Regions from separate parts of the Homo sapiens genome. Here region 1 is linked to region 2. Evidence: fine-mapped expression QTL. A gene starts in region 2. The other region holds a variant in brackets. All regions are shown on one strand. Distances are between the middles of the regions.

Region 1 (2,898 bases), 29 kb before region 2:
GAGCAAGCTACTCCCCTTCCCTGGAACTGTCTTATGTATCCAGTGATTTCACAAATATTTGTCGAGCACGTACTATGGACCAGGCATTTTGAAAAGACTGTTACTGTTGGCTGGGTGCGGCGGCTCATGCCTGCAATCCCAGCACTTTGGGAGACCGAGGCTGGCGGATCATGAGGTCAGGACTTCCAGACCAGCCTGACCAACATGGTGAAACCCCATCTCCACTAAAAATACAAAAATTAGCTGGGCGTGGTGGTGGACGCGTGTAGTCCCAGCTACTTGGGAGGCTGAGGCACGAGAATCACTTGAACCCGGGAGGCAGAGGTTGCAGTGAGTTGAGGTCACACCACTGCACTCCAGCCTGGGCGACAGAGCAAGACTCCATCTGAAAGAAAAAAACAACAAACTGTAGATTGTAACAAGAGACATGCTAGAAATCAAGAGGGATGCACTATAACACAATGAGTGTATGGGAGGTGGGTCTTTCCTTTGCAAAGTGGGTAAGGGAAGACTTGGATGAAAATATGTTGAAGCTGAGAATTAAAAACAGTGTAAGTATCCAGCCATGAGAAATGCAAAGAGAATGACACTTCAGGCAGAAGGCACAGCGCAGGCAAAGGCCCTGGGGCAGGAGCAAGCCTGGCCAGTACTAGTTCCAAGAATGGACACAGGCCAGCGTGGCTGAGGCAAAGTGAGCCGGCTAGAGCACAGCAGGAGAAGGGAGGTGCTAAGCCCGGATCATGCAGAACTTTGCAAGTTGTGATAAGAAGTTTGAATGTGGGGCCGGGTGCAGTGGCTCACGCCTGTTACCCCAGCACTTTGGGAGGCCAAGGCGGGGCAGATCACGAGGTCAGGAAATCAAGACCATCCTGGCTAACACGGTGAAACCCCGTCTCTACCAAAAATACAAAAAATTAGCCAGGTGTGGTGGTGGACGCCTGTAGTCCCAGCTACTTGGGAGGCTGAGGCAGGAGAATGGCGTGAACCCGGGAGGCGGAGCTTGCAGTGAGCTGAGATCGCACCACTGCACTCCAGCTTGGGCGACAGAGCGAGACTCCGTCTCAAAAAAAAAAAAAGAAGTTTGAATGTAGCTGGGCCCAGTGGCTCATGCCTGTCATCCCAGCACTTTGGGAGGCCGAGGCAGGAGACCAGCCTGACCAACATAGAGAAACCTCATCTCTACTAAAAATACAAAGTTAGCCGGGCGTGGTGGCGCATGCCTGTAATCCCAGTTACTTGGGAGGCTGAGGCAGCAGAATCGCTTGAACCTGAGAGGGGGGGTGCAGTGAGCCAAGCTCGTGCCATTGCATTCCAGGCTGGGCAACAAGAGCGAAAATCTGTCTCAAAAAATAAAAGAAGTTTGAGTGTGTGTGTGTGCGTGTGGTTTTTTTTGTTTGTTTTGTTTTGTTTTGTTTGAGACTGAGTCTCACTCTATTGCCCAGGCTAGAGTGCGGTAGCATAATCTCAGCTCACTGCAACCCCCGCCTCCTGGGTTCAAGCGATTCTCCAGCCTCAGCCTCCAGATA[G/C]CTGTGATTACAGCCATGCACCACCAGGCCCAGCTAATTTTTGTATTTTTAATAGAGACGGGGTTTCACCATGTTGGCCAGGCTGGTCTCGAACTGCTGACCCCAAGTGATCCACCCGCCTCGGCCTCCCAAAGTGCTGGGATAATAGGGGTGAGCCACCGCGCCTGGCCTAGAAGTTTGAATTTTTGTCCAAACGGAAAAGGAAGTGGAAGGTGGAAAATGCCTTCGTAACACTGATAAGGCAGGCAAGCAAATGATTAAGCCCTCCCTATCTTGTGGCTTTGCAAGCCTCGCATTTCAGCACTCTTGTTTGTCCTTGCACGGGAAATGAGTAGGCAGTGAATAATTTTTAGGTTGATATTGTCAGATTCCGTGCAGTTCCCCCGCTCTGTCCACAGACCTCACAAGGATTGTGTCACATCAGTTAAGGGCAGCAGGAGGGGCGGGGCTGGGAACAGGGTGGGTCTTCAGCCTTGCTGGCACCCTCTGGTCTGACTCAGCCCTTCTCACCTGATCACAATAGCGTCCTAAACCATCTCCCTGCTTCTACCTTCATTTCCCGCCTTGACCATCTGCTCTCAACGTAGCAGACAGAGGGATTCTTTTAAAATAGAATTGCTAGACTTGGGACATTAAAATACAGGATGCCCAGTTAAATTTAAAGTTTTAGATAAACAAAAAAATTTTGAATGTAAGTATATCTCATGCAGTTTGGGGGCTGTACTTAGACTTAAACATTTTATTTGTTGTTTATCTGAGTTTTGAAATCAACTGGGCATCCTACATTGAATCTGGCAACCCTATTTCAGTTTAATTTTTATTTTATGTATTTTTTTTGAGGCAGGGTCTGTTGCCCAGGCTGGAATGCAGGGACACGATCATGGCTCACTGCAGCCTCCAGGCTCAAGTCATCCCCCCACCTCAGCCTCCTGAGTAGCTGGGACTACAGGTGTGCACCACGATGCCTGGCTAAACTACATGACACATATATCCTCTCACCGCAGTTAAAATGGCTTTTATAGGCCTAATCCAGCACTTTGGGAGGCCGAGGCGGGCGGGTCACCTGAGGTCAGGAGTTCAAGACCAGCCTGGCCAACATGGCAAAACCCCGTCTTTACTAAAAATACAAAAATTAGCTGGGCGTGGTGGTGGGTGCCTGTAATCACAGCTACTCAGGAGGCTGAGGCAGGAGAATCGCTTGAACCAGGGGGAAAGGGGTTGCAGTGAGCCAAGATCACGCCACTGCACTCCAACCTGGGCGACAGAGAGAGACCCTGTCTCAAAAGAAAAAAAAAAAGTGATTGTGGCAAAGAAGGGCTTTTCTCAAAGACATTGCTTCATCTGTAACCACAAGCCTCATTTCTTTACTGTA
Region 2 (2,898 bases):
TCCCTGTCCACGGGCACGTCCGCCTGCCACAGCCGCTTGGTGCACGCCTTCCACAGCCCCAGGTGGGCCGCTTCGCACACGGCGCTGCCGTTGGCCTTGTAGGTGTTGAGCTCCACCCAGAACTCGGTGCCCACGGACAGCACCGCCAGCGTGGCGCCCACGGCGGCCAGCAGCAGCGCCAGCTTCACCTTCCCCTCGCGCTCGGGCGTCAGCCCCGACCTGCCCTGCCCGTGCGCCCGCCGCCGGCCCGCGGCCCCCCGCCGCCGGTTCTCCTCTTGCAGGAAGAAGTTGGACCACATCATCTTATGGCCGGTGGGGTCGGGAAGGGGGAGGAGGCAGAGCCGGCGAAGGGCCTCGAGGGGCGGGAGCGAGGAGCGGCCTGGGGTCTTGAAGGGGGTGAGGGACTCAGTTTCCCCTGGGTATGAAAGAGGGAGAGCCGAGTCCTGTCTGGAATCTCAAATGCGAAAGTCGAGATTGCTTCTGGGGTTCAGAAGAGAAAAATGATCCCCAGGGCTGGGGAAGCCTCTGGGGTTCAGAGGAGGGTCTAGGTTGCCCTCAAGAACTTGGCAAAGAAGACGGGGCCCAGAGGAAAAACAAGGCCCCCACCCTGAGGTTTAGAGATAGAATTCGGCTTCCCAGGAGGGAGTCCCCCCAAGAGCTCCAGAGGAATGAGAACTGGTGCCCGCTGAAGCTCCCTGCAGCTCCAAGGGGCTGCTTTGGGGTCCCCGCTGGGGGGTTAACAAAAGGGAAACTGGTTTTCCTGAGAGATCTGAGCACCCCACTAGGGCTAAGAGTTTGGGGTACCCAGGAAGGGACCTGAGGTCCTGTGTGTGTTTGGAGGAGATGTGGCCGGGGTTCCCTTGGGCTCAGAGTTTGAGAACAGAGGACTTGGGGACCCTCTGGGATTCGGAAAAGGAAGACCTGGGGTCCCGGGAAGCTCCCAAGGGGAGGTCGGAATTCAATCCGGGTCTCAAGAGAGGCAGTAGGACCCCGGCATCCACAGAAGGAGAAGAACAGAGCCCTGGCTGGGGCTCAGAAGAGGACTGGGCCTCGCTGGAATTCAGGAAAAGGGGATAGGGGTCTCCCCTGCCATTCAGAAAAGATCCGAGGTCTCTACTGAGCCTGGAAAAGGGGCCGGTGGCCGGAAGACAGAGTGGAGTCCAGAGGCGGGAGGCTACGGGGCCTCCCCGAGGGCTGGGGCAGATGGGACCGGGGGCCCTCCTGGGGCTCACACTATGGGGCTGTGGTCCGCACTGCGGCTCGGAAAACCAGGACTGAGTCCCCCCAGGGTTCAAAGGCCAACCGCGACCCGCAAGAGACGCTGCGCCCCTTCGGGATCAGTCCGTCTCCCTCCCCCGGGCTCCCAGGGCCTTCCCGGTCGGGTTCGCGCCAGGCTCAGCCCCAGGCCAGGGCCCCCCCTCGGGGCTCCCACCCCCGACTCCCGAGCAGGGGCCCCTCTCGCTCTCCTGCCTCGGCCCCGCGCCGACCCCAGCTCCGCGCTGCCTCCGAAGCGTCCGGCTGTGCCCGCCACCGCCACCGGCCTGGCCTCCGCCCGCGCCCGGCCTCGTCCCCACCCGCCCACCCCCCACCCTCCACCCTCCACCCTCGGGGCTATTTCGGGCTTGACCCGTAAATAACACCCGCACCTGTCGCCCGGCGCCTGTTGCCATAGGGATCCCGGGTGTTTTAAGGGGACGAGGAAGGGGGGAGGGAGGCCGCCCGGGGAGGAAGGGGCCGAGCCTGATGGGACTTTCATTTCACTAAGGGGCAAGAGCGGCGCCGAGAGTCCCAGCTCCGCAGTCTCCCGGGCAGCAGGAGACGGGCGGGGCAGCAAGTCTGACTGGGGTTACCAGGGAGGAGGGGCGGGAGGCAGGGCCCCGGGTCTCAGGGAGGAGGGCCTGAGGCCAGGAGTCTTGGGTCCCTAAGGGAGAAGAAGCCTCGGTACCCCACTTCTGAGTGGTAGAGGAAGAAGGCCTGGGTACCCAGAATCTTGGATCTGAGAGGAGAGGAACCTGGTCTCCTAGGTCCTGGGCTCCTGAGTCTGAGGGAGGAGGGGCTGGGGGCCTGAACTCCTGGGTCTGAGGGAGGAGGGGCTGGGGTCTGGACTCCTGGGTCTGAGGGAGGAGGGGCTGGGCCTGGGCTCCTGAGTCTGAGGGAGGAGGGACTGGGGCCTGGACTTCTGGGTCTGAGGGAGGAGGGACTGGGGCCTGAACTCCTGGGTCTGAAGGAGGAGGGGCTGGGGGCCTGGACTCCTGGGTCTGAGGGAGGAGGGGCTGGGGGCCTGGACTCCTGGGTCTGAGGGAGGAGGGGTTGGGGGCCTGGGCTCCTGGGTCTGAGGGAGGAGGGGCTGGGGGTCTGGACTCCTGGGTCTGAGGGAGGAGGGGCTGGGGCCTGGACTCCTGGGTCTGAGGGAGGAGGGGCTGGGGGCCTGGGCTCCTGAGTCTGAGGGAGGAGGGGCTGGGGGCCTGGACTTCTGGGTCTGAGGGAGGAGGGACTGGGGCCTGAACTCCTGGGTCTGAAGGAGGAGGGGCTGGGGGCCTGGACTCCTGGGTCTGAGGGAGGAGGGGCTGGGGGCCTGGGCTCCTGGGTCTGAGGGAGGAGGGGCTGGGGGCCTGGGCTCCTGGGTCTGAGGGAGGAGGGGCTGGGGGCCTGGGCTCCTGGGTCTGAGGGAGGAAGGCCTGGGCCTGGACTCCTGGGTCTGAGGGAGGAGGGGGCAGGGGGCCTGGACTCCTGGATCTGAGGGAGGAGGGGCTGGGCCTGGACTCCTGGGTCTGAGGGAGGAGGAGGGCCGGGGAGCCTGGACTCCTGGTCAAGGCGTTGGCAGACCCAGAGTCCTGGGCCTCAGGGAGGAGACTGGGGCCAGAACCCTGGGTCTTGAAGGATGGAAGGCCTGATTTC

The links.
Region 1: its variant is fine-mapped to the expression of CACNG6 in whole blood (TOPMed, PIP above 0.99).

The regions. Positions count from the first base shown.
Region 1 is chr19:54,019,325-54,022,222 of GRCh38, reverse strand. No RefSeq gene overlaps it. Among named protein-coding and RNA genes, the nearest start is that of CACNG6, 29 kb to the right of the region's middle. RefSeq lists an enhancer at 1,774-2,068. The variant G/C (reference allele first, on the strand shown) is at 1,527.
Region 2 is chr19:53,990,282-53,993,179 of GRCh38, reverse strand. It overlaps CACNG6 (calcium voltage-gated channel auxiliary subunit gamma 6), which reads right to left and starts at 1,543. Exons shown (of 4, transcript NM_145814.2): 1 at 1-1,543. The coding sequence starts at 302.